4 linked regions of the Homo sapiens genome follow. The protein of the gene in region 3 purifies or fractionates together with the protein of the main gene of each other region. This does not show direct contact. Each region holds a gene or a part of one and is shown on either strand. Other genes may lie near its edges.

Evidence for each region.
Region 1: the proteins of ZC3HC1 (region 3) and SEPTIN5 purify together in Homo sapiens (affinity purification with mass spectrometry; one large-scale study listed by BioGRID and IntAct). This does not show direct contact.
Region 2: the proteins of ZC3HC1 (region 3) and SERPINB7 purify together in Homo sapiens (affinity purification with mass spectrometry; one large-scale study listed by BioGRID and IntAct). This does not show direct contact.
Region 4: the proteins of ZC3HC1 (region 3) and GAN purify together in Homo sapiens (co-immunoprecipitation; 2 studies listed by BioGRID and IntAct, with this or other methods). This does not show direct contact.

What each region holds. Positions count from the first base shown.
Region 1 is NC_000022.11:19,717,488-19,720,668, forward strand, and holds part of SEPTIN5 (septin-5), read left to right. Parts: exon of another isoform or gene 1-1,250; coding exon of another isoform or gene 1,251-1,331; intron 1,332-2,114; coding exon 2,115-2,211; intron 2,212-2,318; coding exon 2,319-2,405; intron 2,406-2,627; coding exon 2,628-2,751; intron 2,752-2,832; coding exon 2,833-2,967; intron 2,968-3,061; coding exon 3,062-3,179; intron 3,180-3,181. UniProt on the Homo sapiens protein: Filament-forming cytoskeletal GTPase. May play a role in cytokinesis. May play a role in platelet secretion.
Region 2 is NC_000018.10:63,773,988-63,778,225, forward strand, and holds the start of SERPINB7 (serpin B7), read left to right. Parts: upstream 1-1,430; 5' UTR 1,431-1,729; intron 1,730-3,793; exon of another isoform or gene 3,794-3,838; intron 3,839-4,238. UniProt on the Homo sapiens protein: Might function as an inhibitor of Lys-specific proteases. Might influence the maturation of megakaryocytes via its action as a serpin.
Region 3 is NC_000007.14:130,041,352-130,044,874, reverse strand, and holds part of ZC3HC1 (zinc finger C3HC-type protein 1), read left to right. Parts: exon of another isoform or gene 1-1,247; intron 1,248-3,523. UniProt on the Homo sapiens protein: Required for proper positioning of a substantial amount of TPR at the nuclear basket (NB) through interaction with TPR.
Region 4 is NC_000016.10:81,387,947-81,391,317, forward strand, and holds the end of GAN (gigaxonin), read left to right. Parts: 3' UTR 1-2,863; downstream 2,864-3,371. UniProt on the Homo sapiens protein: Probable cytoskeletal component that directly or indirectly plays an important role in neurofilament architecture.

The DNA of each region.
Region 1 (3,181 bases), on a different chromosome or scaffold from region 3:
TGGGAGATGGGTCCCATCCCACCCCCACCCCTGTCTCTGAGGGCAGGGCCACCTGAGGGCTGCAGGGCAGCGCATGGGTGGCCGGCGTTTATTCAGCAGGCTGGCGGGGGCTTCCAAGTTTTGCAGGGACCTCCAGTACTCCGGCAGCCTGCACCCTTCCTTTCCCTTCCCTTCCCTTCTGTCCACCCTAAGCCTCCTAGGGGACAGGCAGGCTGGACTTCAGAAAAGGTGGGCTCTGCCCTCCTCCGGTCCCCCGAATGTCTTGGGAAAGAGTCCACCAAACACACATGCACACACCCGCGCACACGCACATACCCAATGCATGCACACACGTACACACACACGCATACACGCATGTATACACGCGCACACACGCAGGCATTACACACACACACATTACACACACACACCCGCACGGACGCGCACACACAAACGCGCGCACGCACGCACGCACGCACGGGGGAGGTCAGCCCCAAGCAGGGCTGGGGAGGGGTGCAGGGCGCGGCGTGTCTGTGGGCACTTGGGGCGTCGAGACGCCGCCGGGAGGTTTTCGGGCAAGTCTGCGAGAAGACGGCGGGCCCTGAACTGGGCGGGTACCCGCGCTGTTGCGCGTGGGTCCCGGGAGCGGCCTCCGGCGCCCTCTGGCGGGCGGAAGCCGCGCAGCACCTCTTGGGGGCGGGACGCGCGGTGGCTACCGACTCCCGGCCCGCCCCGGCCCGCGTGCAGGACCCGGTCGTCCCCTCCTGCTGTCCTGGAGCCCGGACTGAGGCCCCGGGGGCGCGGCAGGGCTCCCGGTCCACGCGAGCCATGGCCCGACCGCGCCTCGGCTCAGCCCTGCCCTCCGCAGCCGCTTTCGGGTGGCTCCGCCCGCGGCCCAATTTCCAGGCGACCGTTTCCCGGCGACGGCGGGCGGGGCCGTCTCTGCCGCCCCCCGCCGCGCGCTCCGCGGGCGCCTGCGACGCCCCGCCTCTGGCTCGGGTGCGGGAGCGGGGCCTGCCCGGACTGCGACGCCGCCACAGCTTGGGGCCAGTTCGCCCAGTCAGGGGGATGGCTCGGTCGGCCTCGGGGGTCGACGATCCCCCGGGTAGGCGACGTGCCCTGTCCAGGCCTCACTTCCCGCGTCCGCAAAACGGGGTGGACAACGCAGCCTAAGGCAGAGCCGCGCCAAGGTCCCTCGCTGTCGCCGGGCTCTGGCGGCCTGACCGGGCCTGGGGTCCGAGCGTGCCCCCGGGCCTGGGGGGGTCGCCGCGATGGACTCGCTGGCAGCGCCCCAGGACCGCCTGGTGGAGCAGCTGCTGTCGCCGCGGACCCAGGCCCAGAGGCGGCTCAAGGTGCGTGTGTGGAGAGGGCGGAACGTGGGTCTGTGACCCCGCGGGCTCCGGGACTCGGCATGGGGTCCCCGTCCCCGCGCGCCACGGCCCGCCAGCGCCTAGGCTCAGCCCTTCCCTCCGCAGCGGCCTCGCAGGTCCGCGGCCCCACGGTGGGGCGACGTGCCCTGTCCAGGCCTCACCTCACGCGACTCCAAAACGCGGCGGAGAATGCGGCCGTGGGACCCCTCCAGGGGCCCCAAGGGTCTGCGGGGGCTGGGCGCCTGGGCGCGCGGGCGGGGGAGGCTCGGCGCCGCGGTCTATAAATAGGCGCTGCTCCGCCACCGCCGCTGCCGCCGCCCCCGCGGCTGGATCCGGGCCAGGTGGGGCCTCCCGCCCCCTGGCACTCTCCGGAGGGGTGAGTGTCGAGGCCCCCAGCTTCTCCGGCTTATGGAGGGCCTTGAGTGTGTCCCAGGGGTCCCAATCCTGCTGCCCTCTGCCCGAGGAGGGAGGACATCGCCTGTGCCTGCTGCGGCCTGACATCTCCCCACGGAATAAATACAGTGTCGGTCCCTGCAGAGCCCTCCCTGGGATTGGGGCCAGGGGTGCCTTCTCCTGCCACCACCTCGCCTGCCTTCTTATCTCCAGGCTTTTGCCCACGGGCCCTCCCCTTATTTTTGCCAACGAAATGCCCCACCCTGGGAACCGTACCCTCTGCTGTCTCCTCATACCGCATTTGGTAAGAGACAGGGTATTGGGCTTCTGGAGAAACCTTTGTGTCCCTACCCTGTTCCATCCTGTCCCCAGGACATTGACAAGCAGTACGTGGGCTTCGCCACACTGCCCAACCAGGTGCACCGCAAGTCGGTGAAGAAAGGCTTTGACTTCACACTCATGGTGGCTGGTGAGTGGGCCAGGCTCCTCGGGGGAGTGGCTGGGGTCACTGGCCAGCCAAGCTCTGTCGTTGGAGCCCCAGACCTAACGCAGCTCCTTCTCTGTACCTGTGTGCAGGTGAGTCAGGCCTGGGGAAGTCCACACTGGTCCACAGCCTCTTCCTGACAGACTTGTACAAGGACCGGAAGCTGCTCAGTGCTGAGGGTGAGTGGCCCCCAGGAGGCCCTGGCACTGATCCCCAGTCCCCTTCCATGGGACCTCTCCAAGGACTCCCTTTCAGGTCCAGCTCCCACTGTTCTGTTCTCGCGGTGTGGGTCCCCTGGGGGTAGGGCCAAGGCACCAAGATGGATGAGGACGAGGGTCCTGGCTGCCAAGGGTGAGGGGCTGAGGGTTGGAGAGGCCCTTCCAGTGGCCCCTTCCCCGTAGAGCGCATCAGCCAGACGGTAGAGATTCTAAAACACACGGTGGACATTGAGGAGAAGGGAGTCAAGCTGAAGCTCACCATCGTGGACACGCCGGGATTCGGGGACGCTGTCAACAACACCGAGTGGTGAGTGAGGCCTGCTGAGAAAGGCCTTGCCTAGGCGGCCACAGCACTCGAGGCCTGGCCTCACCTCCCTCCTGCCCACAGCTGGAAGCCCATCACCGACTATGTGGACCAGCAGTTTGAGCAGTACTTCCGTGATGAGAGCGGCCTCAACCGAAAGAACATCCAAGACAACCGAGTGCACTGCTGCCTATACTTCATCTCCCCCTTCGGGCATGGGTGTGTGGCTGTCCTGGGGCCAGGCTCGGGAGTGCAGCCCCTACAATATGGCCCCCTGGCTGTGCCTATGCCCACCCTTGGCTGCTCTCGGCAGGCTGCGGCCAGTGGATGTGGGTTTCATGAAGGCATTGCATGAGAAGGTCAACATCGTGCCTCTCATCGCCAAAGCTGACTGTCTTGTCCCCAGTGAGATCCGGAAGCTGAAGGAGCGGGT
Region 2 (4,238 bases), on a different chromosome or scaffold from region 3:
CCTCAGTAGGTAAGAAATAGAAAGGATATGGGATTCAAAATATTCAGCCTATGAACACTGCAATTAGAATATGGAGAACAGGGAATCCATTTGTAGGCTCATTTTTTTTTTATATTAACAACAACCTTCTCCTTCAGAAAGTTCACCACAACTGCTAAATCAAAATTAAATTTCAGGGATTTTCTGCAACTTTACTTTTCTCTATGATTATTCTACTCATAAACAATCATGGAGGTGAGCAATAACTACTTTATTCGATTTTGGATAAGTTAACAGGACCCCCTTCTTCCTGGGAAAGAGGCAAAATTGCACAAAATTGAGAGGCGAGCAACTGTAAGATGATGGTACCTTCTAATTCCAATAGCTTTTTACAATAGAGAACCCAGTTACTTGGATAAATGTTGGCTGTACTTTTGAAAACACTCAGGCAGAAGGACCAGGCTTGCAGTCATTTCCATGCATAGCAGGTGAAGGTAGGTGCAACATACAGCTCAACCTCATGATGCTACGGCCAGAAACTGAAATGTGTTTTTGCCCCTGTGTGGCATGTTCTGATGGCAAAGGTGTAGGCAACCAACTGGGCCCAACCTACCTTTCCCTACACCTGGTCACTTTTCAAAGTGCAAACCCACTTTAACAAACTCTAGCCTGTATTATAGGAGGAAGGATCTGGGTGGTGCAGACGTGGCTTTCCATTGCCAGATCAGAAGGGTGGAGGAGAGGCTGGCAGGATGACAAGAATGAATGAACACACCAAGTTTCAGCTCCTATCTGAAGCTGCTCAGTTCAGGTAAGCATTTAGAGAAGCCAGTTGCAATAACTAACAGGGCAAATGTTTCTCTGGAAAATTCCAAGCCAGAGAAAATTGAGAAAAAGAGGGAAGGATGGAAAGCAGTACAAAGAGAAGCCAGCTCAAAAGGTTAGAGGTCCAGATGAAAATCTGAGATTGGAGAATGATAAAAAACATTGTGTGAGATTCTATTTTAGGTCATTATGCTAGGGAAATTTACACAGGATAGGGTTGAAAGAAATTAGGCTATAAGATGAGTGGCAAGTTGCAATAAAATGGCACCCTAAACTCACCAAGTCACTGTTGTCACTGCTATCTTGCCTTAGTTGATTTGATGTCTAGTTAGTCTATTTGTGTGTTTCTCACAGAAGAGTATGTTTTGACCCAGGCTGACAGATACTGTTGATTCTGAAATTTGTTTTTATGGTTATGTTAAAACCATTGTCATTATAAGAAACAGAGATGGGAATATTGCCTCCTGAAATCTGATTCACATACAAACTGAATGAACTACATAACAACCACCTTAGTCAGATACTATTTTGAAACCTGGTTCAAAACCTAAATGCTTATAAGATTCTTGAGAGACAGTGCTGTGCTCTGAGTCATAGGGAAGCCATCCCAGAAGCCAGGTCTACTCATCAATAAGCAGCTGCCTGTGCAGAGTGCAGGCTGCACCTTTGGACAGCCTTTAAAACTGAATTCTCAGAATTTTAGAACAAATTTTTGTCTAGAAATGCTGACTTTGGTTCATTAGGTAGTGGTAAAACAGGCTCCCTTCGAAGCTCTCCTTCATCACCTTCCTAAGTGCATGGGGGAAAATACCTAGGGCTCAACAGTCTTGAGAAGTGTGGAAACATTTTCTTTGTGAGTGAGAACAGATCACCTAGAGAAAGGAGACCAGATTCCCATCACTGCTTCTGGGTATCAGATGCTAGCGTGAGTACACTGTTGATTTGCTTATCCAATTATTGATTTACATTATTGCTCTTATCTTCTGTTGTAGGCAAGAGGTAAGTTCACTAACGAATCTCAAGGAAGATGTAAATGGCCAATGATCATGCTCAGAGGCCTGAAATCTCTCCAGGTCGCCTCCTTGGAGGGATGCTTTTCTGGTGGGGCAGCTTTTATCACCATACACAAATGTGCTTGGGTTTGGATTCTGCTGGAGAGAACACTGTGACCCGTGGTCTCTTCCTTGGGCCATGTCAGTCAGTCTTGGACTTATTTTGCATCCTATTCTTTACCTCACTGATGCCTGTGTATCCTTGGCTTGGTGTCCCAGCCCATTGTCCATCAAAACCTGCTATCAGGAATAGATCAATTATCAGTTATACACAATGCGCCATGACCCTATCCCAGAGGCATTAGGTCATTTGGCTTCATGTTTTTTTTGTTGTTGCTGTTGAGTTTTAAAATAATGAAATATAATGTAGCTACATAAAGATGAATTCAATAGATGCATACAATTTAATAATAGAACATCACCAGAACCTCTAAAACCTCCCTCCCCATTCTTTCACCAACAAAACCTCCCCACCCACTAGGGGTAACTAAAGCAGTTATATCCGTGGCTTAGTCTATCCACCCATGTAAGCATCCATTAAAAAACAGTTTTGTCTGGTTTGATCTTTTCATGAAGGGCATCTTACTGTGTGTATTCTTTCGTGCCTGATTTATTTGCCTTCTAAACCTTACTTCTATCAGTGGCGTGGGAGCTGATGGCTACTGCTGTGGTGATTTCAGACAGTCTTGAGAAGATGAGGGTAGAGTTTTGTGGTCAGAAACCTTCTTGTGTGCCTTAAGATAGTGCGAATTGAAAGACCATGTCCTGGTATGAAGCATAGTTTTTGGGTATACTAGATAAACCAAGGTCTGTGAGAAGCTCTGGTAGACAAAGGGAAGAAGTGGGTCCCAATGGACGTCTAACAAGGACTGGGGGGTTTAAATCATTAAGACTATGATAATTTTATCCACAGTTGATCTATAAAGTGTACTATGATATACTTTTCACAATGTAAGCTTTCTCTGGAGTTAATAATTATCAAATTTGCTCATTTTTTGGATATTTATTTGGTTTCTAAGTTCCTATCACTAATGTATTTCTTTTCTGATGGGGGTAGATATCCCTCTCCATGTGTTCAATATATTCTAACGCATCTCTCTCTCTGATAGCATATTCACCTTAGAGAGCTTCAAACAGTCAGCATACTCAATTTTAGCATTAATCATACAACGAAAATAAAGGCAGTATGGGCAAACACTTGTGGGAAATAATGTGTAAGATAAAGTCAGAAACACTATGTGAGGTACAACCCTACTTCTCTTGAGAGGGACAGCTCACCTGCCTCCCTTAAATACAATGTTCCCCAAATACAGCATAAATACCATGTTAGTGATTATACACATACATAGCAACACACACATATATATATGTGTGTGTGTACTAATGAAAATGTAATTGGTGTGAATTTTTATTTTATGGATGAGAAAAGGCCCACTCTATTCTATAGCACTTTGCTTTCTTCACCTCTCTGGGACTGCAGTGCTACTCCTCTATGACAGTTGAATTTATAGATGTCAGAATATGAATTATTCCAGGTGGGGCTCGGTCATATTCATCAAATACCAAAATCAGAGCAGGGAGGAATCAAATAAACAATAACAAAAATCAGTAACTACATTTCCACATGTAAGAAGTGCCAGTTGTGCCTTAATGTAAGGATATCTAAATTTACTACATAAAAATACTATGTGATACTAAATATCAAATGAAATAACATTTCATGCTAAAATTTGATTCATTAAAAATATCTATTTGACTACTTTGAATTAGAGCTATAGCTAATATTCTACAGACTTCTTTTAAATTGCTCTATAAAGCATCTGAATATATTTATTTTAATGACATTATTTAAAACTATCATGGCCATCATAAAAAAAAAAGTAGGGAGTGTCTGAGTCAGAGGCTTTATATTTCAGAGTAATGCAAAGAACTCTTTCAGACTCACCCAACCAGCGGCCAACTTCCTCTATGAAGACAGTAAGGTAAATACTTCTGAAGTCCATAATTTAAAGTCTGGCCAGATCCTTTGAAAAAAGACACACACACACACACACACACACACACACACACACACACACACACAGACACAGAGAGAGAGAGAGAAATAAATCTTGGTTACTTTGTGTCTGAGACATTAAACTCATCACACAACATCCAGATCGGATAATGGTCCTCTTGTCTGCTTCTCCACCTTACAGCTTGTCTATGACTGATTTAAGTGGTGTCATGGGAGAATGGCATGGGAATCGGATGCCAGCTGAAAAATTTGTGTTCCATCTTTGAAGAGATAAGTAGGGATTATGTGCAAATCTAGATTCTATATTTCCTGTGTTCTTATTTAAGGCATTATAGGTTGGAATATACTAGATTTTGAGATTAGAA
Region 3 (3,523 bases):
TGTTTCTTTGTGATTAGATTCAGGTTATGCAGGAGTGTCGTGAAGCAATGCTGCATTCTCATTGCATCCTGTCAGGTGACACGTGATTTCTATTTATCCCTTTATGGTGATGATCACTTTGATCACTTGATTAAGGGAGTATCTGGCATTTCTATTGTAAAATAACTCTTTCCTCCTTTGTAAATAAAAAGTACTTTGTGGGGAAGTTCTTTGAAACTTTGTAAATATCCCAGTCCTTATCAAACTTTATGTAATTGATTTATTTGTAGTAACATGGACTCAATATTTTCTTTGTTATTCAATGGGTTATAATTCATTACTATCATTATATATTTTGATACTCCAGTTGTTCCTTATTTAGTCAGTGACATCCCCCTCAGGTTGGCTTCTGTGGCCTTTTGACATGTCCCATAACCCATGACCTCTTTATTGCTTTCAGGAACAAGTTGTTCTCGGCTTATCTTGTATTTTTCTTGCCCCATCCCTGGAATCAGCCAATTTTACAAGGATCCTTGGCTGTTTTTCAGTGGAGAATGTTATTTAAAAGCTAAGATCTGAACTGGGCATGGTGGCACACCTGTAATCCCAGCACTTTGGGAGGCCCAGGTGGGAGAATTGCCTGAGCCCAGGAGAGACCAGCCTGGGCAACATAGCAAGATCCTGTCTCTATATAAATGCATGAATGAATGCCAAGATCTGGGTGCAGGGAGAACTCATAGCTAGTGGGATGCCACTGTTCTCAGGCCCTCTCAGAGGAAAAAGCTAGAAAATATATATGTTTATGTACACACACACAGACACACACATTCACATGTATACACACATCTAAATTTACATCCATTTCTCTCTATATTTTAAAAAACGATGAGTTCCTGCTGACATCTCCAGTTGCAATTGTACATCACAGGATTCATTCTAGTTTTCTCCTTTTCCCTATTTTTCCCTCCCATATTCAACACTGTGAAACATAATTTGTTATCCTTAATATATTTACTACTTTGATCAATCCCCTATATGTGCTTAATCTCCCATTTCTGCCATGCTGCCATCCTTTCTTGCATGAATCTCTCGTCACCCCATTTAGGTCCTAGCACTCCACACTTGGCTGCCCGCAAGTGAATGCCTGTTACATACCACTTTGGTTCTGACACCCTGGGCTGAGCTGCCTCTTCGCAGCCTCCTGGCTCTGACATCTTCCTTGTTCACCGCCTAATGGCTTTAAGACTGAATTGCTCAGGAAAGGGAAGGTATTTTAACCATCCTTCTACCATTATTTCTTGCATTAAATCTTGATTTTGATAAAATATTTAGATCCATTTCCTTTTTGTTCATTGGCTATAAATTGATCAACATTTTGGATATGATGATTATTTATTTAACCATTACTTTTATTCTAGATAATCATGGCTCCTTTAATATTTGTATCTGAATTTTGTTTTCCAGTCTTCATTCTTCCTTTGCTGATGTTGGAATGTCTTTCAAATTCCTATATCCCTTTATAAAAATGTATAACTTTCCTGCATCTTCTTTCATATTTTATCCTTTTTTTTTTACTGTGCTTTGTGAAATAAGAGCTCTTCAGGTAGAATTTTTCTTTTGAGACAGAATCTTGCTGTGTTGCCCAGGCTGGAGTGCAGTGGTACCATCTCAGCTCACTGCAACCTCCGCCTCCCAAGTTCAAGCGAGTCTCCTGCCTCAGCCTCCCCAATAGCTGGGATTACAGGTACATACTACCACACCCAGCTGATTTTTGTATTTTTAGTAGAAATGGGGTTTCACCATGTTGGCCCAGGCTGGTCTCAAACTCCTGACCTCAAGTGATCCGCCCGTCTCAGCCTCCCAAAGTGCTGGGGCCACCGCACCCGGCCCACATAGATTATTAAAAACTGAAGCTGGGCGAGGTGGCTCATACCTGTAATCCCAGCACCATGGAAGGCCGAGGAGGGCCTCAGGCGTTCAAGGTCAGGCATTCGAGACCAGCCTGGCCAACATGGCAAAACCCCTTCTCTATTAAAATTACAAAAATTAGTGGGGCATGGTGGCGCACGCCTATAATCCCAGCTACTCGGGAGGCTGAGGCAGGAGAATCGGTTGAACCCAGGAGGCAGAGGTTGCAGTGAGCTGAGCTCGTGCCATTGCATTCCAGCCTGGGCAACAGAGCAAGACTCCATCTCAAAAAACAAAACAAAACAAACAAAAAAACTGAGCATTTAATATTAAGGAGTAATAAATGTTTTAGGATACCTTTCCAAATACATACTTACAGATGCTTTTAGCTGTGTAAAACACATTCTCACACATCCCCATTGATACTAGCAATCAAATTTTGGAGGGATAATTTTATTGCCTTTATTCTTTGGAAAGTAAAAATGGATGGGGTACAGTAGGAGAGCATAGGTGAATGGCAGAAAATATTTCTGTGTGTTTAACTTTGACTATCTCTTATTGTTTAGGCATATCCCAGTACTTTCACTGGTGCCTTTAAGTTCCTAGTATTTCAGATTCAGTGAAAATTAATGGATGCTATATTCTACCAGACAACCAATAATAAACTTTTTTTTTTTTTTTTTTTGAGACAGGGTCTCATTCTGTTGCCCAGGCTAGAGGGCAGTGGTGTGATCGTATCTTACTGTGGCCTTGATCTCCTGGGCTCAAGCCATCCTCCTCCCTCAGCCTCTCAATTAGCTGAGACTACAGGCATGCACCACCACATCCCGCTAATTTTTTGATTTTCAATAGAGATGAGGTGTCGCCGTGTTGCCCAGGCTGATCTTCAACTCCTGAGCTCAAGTGATCCTCCCGCTTCAGCCTCCCAATGTGCTGAGATTACAAGCATGTGCCACTGTGCTTGGCCAATAAACATTTTAAACACATAAAATACATAGTGCTTCTTCAAGAATAAGTTAATAACTTTTCCCCTCCACTTATTACTTAAATGACCTTCATCATTCTGTGAAGTATGGGCCTGTGCATTAAAAATAGTTTTTACCACTTTTCTCATTGCCTTTCTCCTTAATGTTTATTCCTATATACATTAAGAATGAGTTGGGCCGGGCACAGTGGCTCACGCCTGTAATTGCAGCACTTTGGGAGGCCGAGGTGGGTGGATCACGAGGTCACAAGTTCAGGACCAACCTGGCCAAGATGATGAAACCCTATCTCTATTAAAAATACAAAAATTAGCTGGGTGCAGTGGCAGATGCCTGTAATCCCAGCTACTCGGGAGGCTGAGGCAGGAGAATCACTTGAACCCGGGAAGTGGAGGTTGCAGAAACCGAGCCGAGACTGTGCCATTGTACTCCAGCCAGGGTGACAGAGCAAGACTCTGTCTTGAAAAAAAAAAAAAAAAAGAATGAGTTAAGATTGTAATTTATGACTTATTCATTTTAATATACTTGCAGTGTTCACCTGTGATTCCAGCACTTTGGGAGGCCAAGGTGGGCAGATCATCTGAGTTCAGGAGTTCAAGACCAGCCTGAGCAACATGGTGAAACCCCATCTCTACCAAAAAATACAAAAATTA
Region 4 (3,371 bases), on a different chromosome or scaffold from region 3:
TTTCTTTCACTGGTGAATAACCTTTCGTTTGAACCAGCCTTGATTGTTCTCTCCATGTTCCACTGTGGCTCCCCATGGACACTGCTAGGTGGAATCTCTGAGAAAACAGGCACTTCGCAGTCGGCGCATCTTTCTCTGCCAGCTTAGGGATTGCCGTCAAGGTGGAGGAAGGGTATTTTGGCCATGTTCGGAGTCGTTGTTTTTACTCACTCTTCTTGGGATAGCTTTCCCACCCTGCCCTCTGCTCCTCTGTCCCAACCCTCTTCCAGCCTGGTTTTTTTACTGCTTGAATTATGTATCCAAAATAAAAAGGAAAAGAAAGGTGCAGTTGGGGCGGGTTGTTGGGGGCGAGGAGAATAGCCCTTCTGGTTCTTCAGACCACATAATGGCCAGAGCATGAGCCTCACAGATCCCTGAGCAGACCTGCATACTAGCACTTTCCACAACCAGCTGGCCCTGGCTGTGAGAGTCAGATCTGTCCCCAAGGCTCCAGGTCAGAACTTGGACCCAGGTGCCTTCTGAGGCACCGCCAAGGACACATCCCAGCGCCTTAGGCACCTGTAGGCTAGAATGACACCTTCCAGGCCAGCCCCAGAGGCCCTCAGGGCTCCCCCTCCAAGCCGGGAGGGCAGGCAGGCACAGGCCCCGCTCACTACCTCAGCACCCAGTGCAGCCCCAGGCTCCCGGACGTGCTCGGCCCGGTGGCCTCTTGTGTGACAGGCCCTCTGCCATGTCTGTCCGCAGAGCCGGGTGGGGACCCTCCGTGTGGGTCCTCCTCTGTCCCTTTGCAGCTCGCATTCGCCAGAGCGGAGCGCAGCCCTTGTTTCCTTCTTTCCTCTTCAGCTCTGACTTAAAAACACACTATGTTCCAAATCGTTGTGGGATCGGAAACTAGAACTGCTTGTTTCCAGGAGAGACCACCTTTTCATATTTTTTTTAAAAGGAATTTGTGCTTCAAAAGAAACTCCAAAAAATAAATTTATTGTTAGTCTAGCATATGCTCATTGAAATTGACTTATGTTTTATTTTAAAAAATCATGTAGGATCTGGTACATGGGGCGGGCAAAAGGGTATCATCAGCTTAAGAAGTAAAGAAGTGAGCCTTCCATTTGTGTGGGTGATAACATCTTTTTCCTAGATCGTACCTCAAAATTCAGGCTCTCCATGAAAACAAAGATAATCTGAATAAAAATTGTGTGTTGGGAAATGTATCAAGTGACCTTCAGTTAAGAAAAGCACAGGCTGTTTATTAGCACAACTTGCTTCATTAAATAATTCGTGGCTTTTTCTGCCACTGGGGTTCTTTTCGTTTTGAATTCAGCTTGTGTTTGGTTCCTCGGTCTTGTACCCCTTCAGTTCGCCGGCGACGTAATGGTGATACCCTTTGTTTTTTGTATCATACCTTTTGTGAATTGTGACAACCATCCCGTAATCATTGTGGCCTCAGCAGAAGTTTTGAACAATCTTTGCAGCCACTGTTGGGGTGTGTACCAGCAGCCTGGAAGTGACCAGCAGAGCTGACAAAAGCACCCCCTGCTCTGCCCACCTCCGCAGAGTCCTGTCCTCATCAGAAACGGTATCGCGGATGCTCCTCAGGTAGGCGTAGGCAGACTTCATTGTGTGTTAGCAGTGACAGTGATGTCTGTACCTATCTGTGAGTGAGACCCATTCATGACACACTAGAAATGTGTACATTCTTTTGTTTTCCATCACGGGTATAGGTCTTCTGCCATGAAAGAGAACTATCAAGGAAATTCCTGAAAACAAGATTTGTAAATTCGATTTGACCCTCCCAAATTCAGGGCTGCTCTTTGCAGTGGTCCCTGGCCCAGCAGGTGGCCGGCGTGGCTCCTGTTGGCTCATGCCAGTGTTGTGCTGGACCCTCGAGTATGTGACTGTCACCCTTGTCCAAGACTGGTTTTTAACAGTCTTGATTTGTCATTTTGATGCTTTGAATACTATAAGGAAAATGCCACGAATACCATATAAATACCACACCAATCTGTTGAACATATCTGTGTTTTCTGACATGGGACCTGCAGAATAGTATTTCTTTTAAATCCTGCAACTTTATTATCTAGTAGAATTCCAAGTAGGTCTGCTTAGACACATATTCAGTGAAGATTGTATTGTGTGTGATATTATCCTATCTTTAATAAAGTCCTACTACTGAAAAACAGGGATTTGCAATGAAAATCATAGCTAAATAGGCAGGTTTAGAAAGTTCAAAATATTGGAAGTGCTAGAAGGCTGCAACTTGTAAAATTGTACTCCCCAAGTTCAGTAGGATAGTAGAGAAGTCGTGCTAAGTTGATTTCATTGAAATGTCACGTCTCACATCCTGTGGTCCAAAGGTACTAGTTTGTTTTGTGGAATAATTTTCTGTTCACTTGCTGATAAGAAATTTAGCAGTCAGAAGTAATTTTTAATTAATAACCTTTCTTTTTAAAAGTTGCTTTATGGTTTACAAGTAATACTGATGCAAAAAGGATTTGTTAACCTAAATTAAGTAGCACGCACTTTGTTTACATGCTTCAGTATATTGTGGGGTTGGTCCCTTCTCACGAACCCAGGACCTGTGCTTGGGGAACATTTTGCCATCATGCTGTTCTCTTGTACCAAGGATCAGTGAAAGTGTTTTATCTTTTTTATGTAGTTTGTATTGACTGGATTTTATAACTGTAAGAAAACAGAAACAGAGTGTTGTATTTTGATCTGAAATTTGTGTATGCTAAAGTAATTTTGTTTTATGTATTGGAAGTTCACTTAAAAACTTGAAATATTTTCTAGAAGGGTACCACACAAAAGGAATCATCTTTAAGCTGTTTAATTAACCTAATAAAATAATTTGATGGGGAAGGCATTCTAATTGTTTCTGATTTTTAGAGTGGTTCCTGCTAAATCATCATTATCAATACAGCTTGATTTGATTTAAGAATGAAACGTTGTCGTTTCTGTCATTTACACGGTGTGGGTGTCAGCTCCTAGACCGTGGCTTGTGATGTTAGATCCGTCCCTTAGCAGCCACACCCCAGTCACTGCCTGAGCCTCTTCCATCGCTGACTGCCTGAGTCTCTCCATCGCTGACTGCCTGAGTCTCTCCATGGCTGACTGCCTGAGTCTTTCCATGGCTGACTGCCTGAGCCTCTCCATCGCCGTCAGCATAAGTCTCCTTGCTGTCTTCCCTGAAAAATGGTTTCAAATTGGCTTTCCTCAGAAGACAGAGAGAAAATAGATTTCGGAGGACTAGAGGACCTTGATATTAAGGGCTTGGTAATATGAGGCAGAATTCCATCTGCAGAAAGCAGATTTCTCTAGTTCCCTCTTACTGCGCTGTCCAGAGACAATAAACCTACAAAGATTGGTAGTAC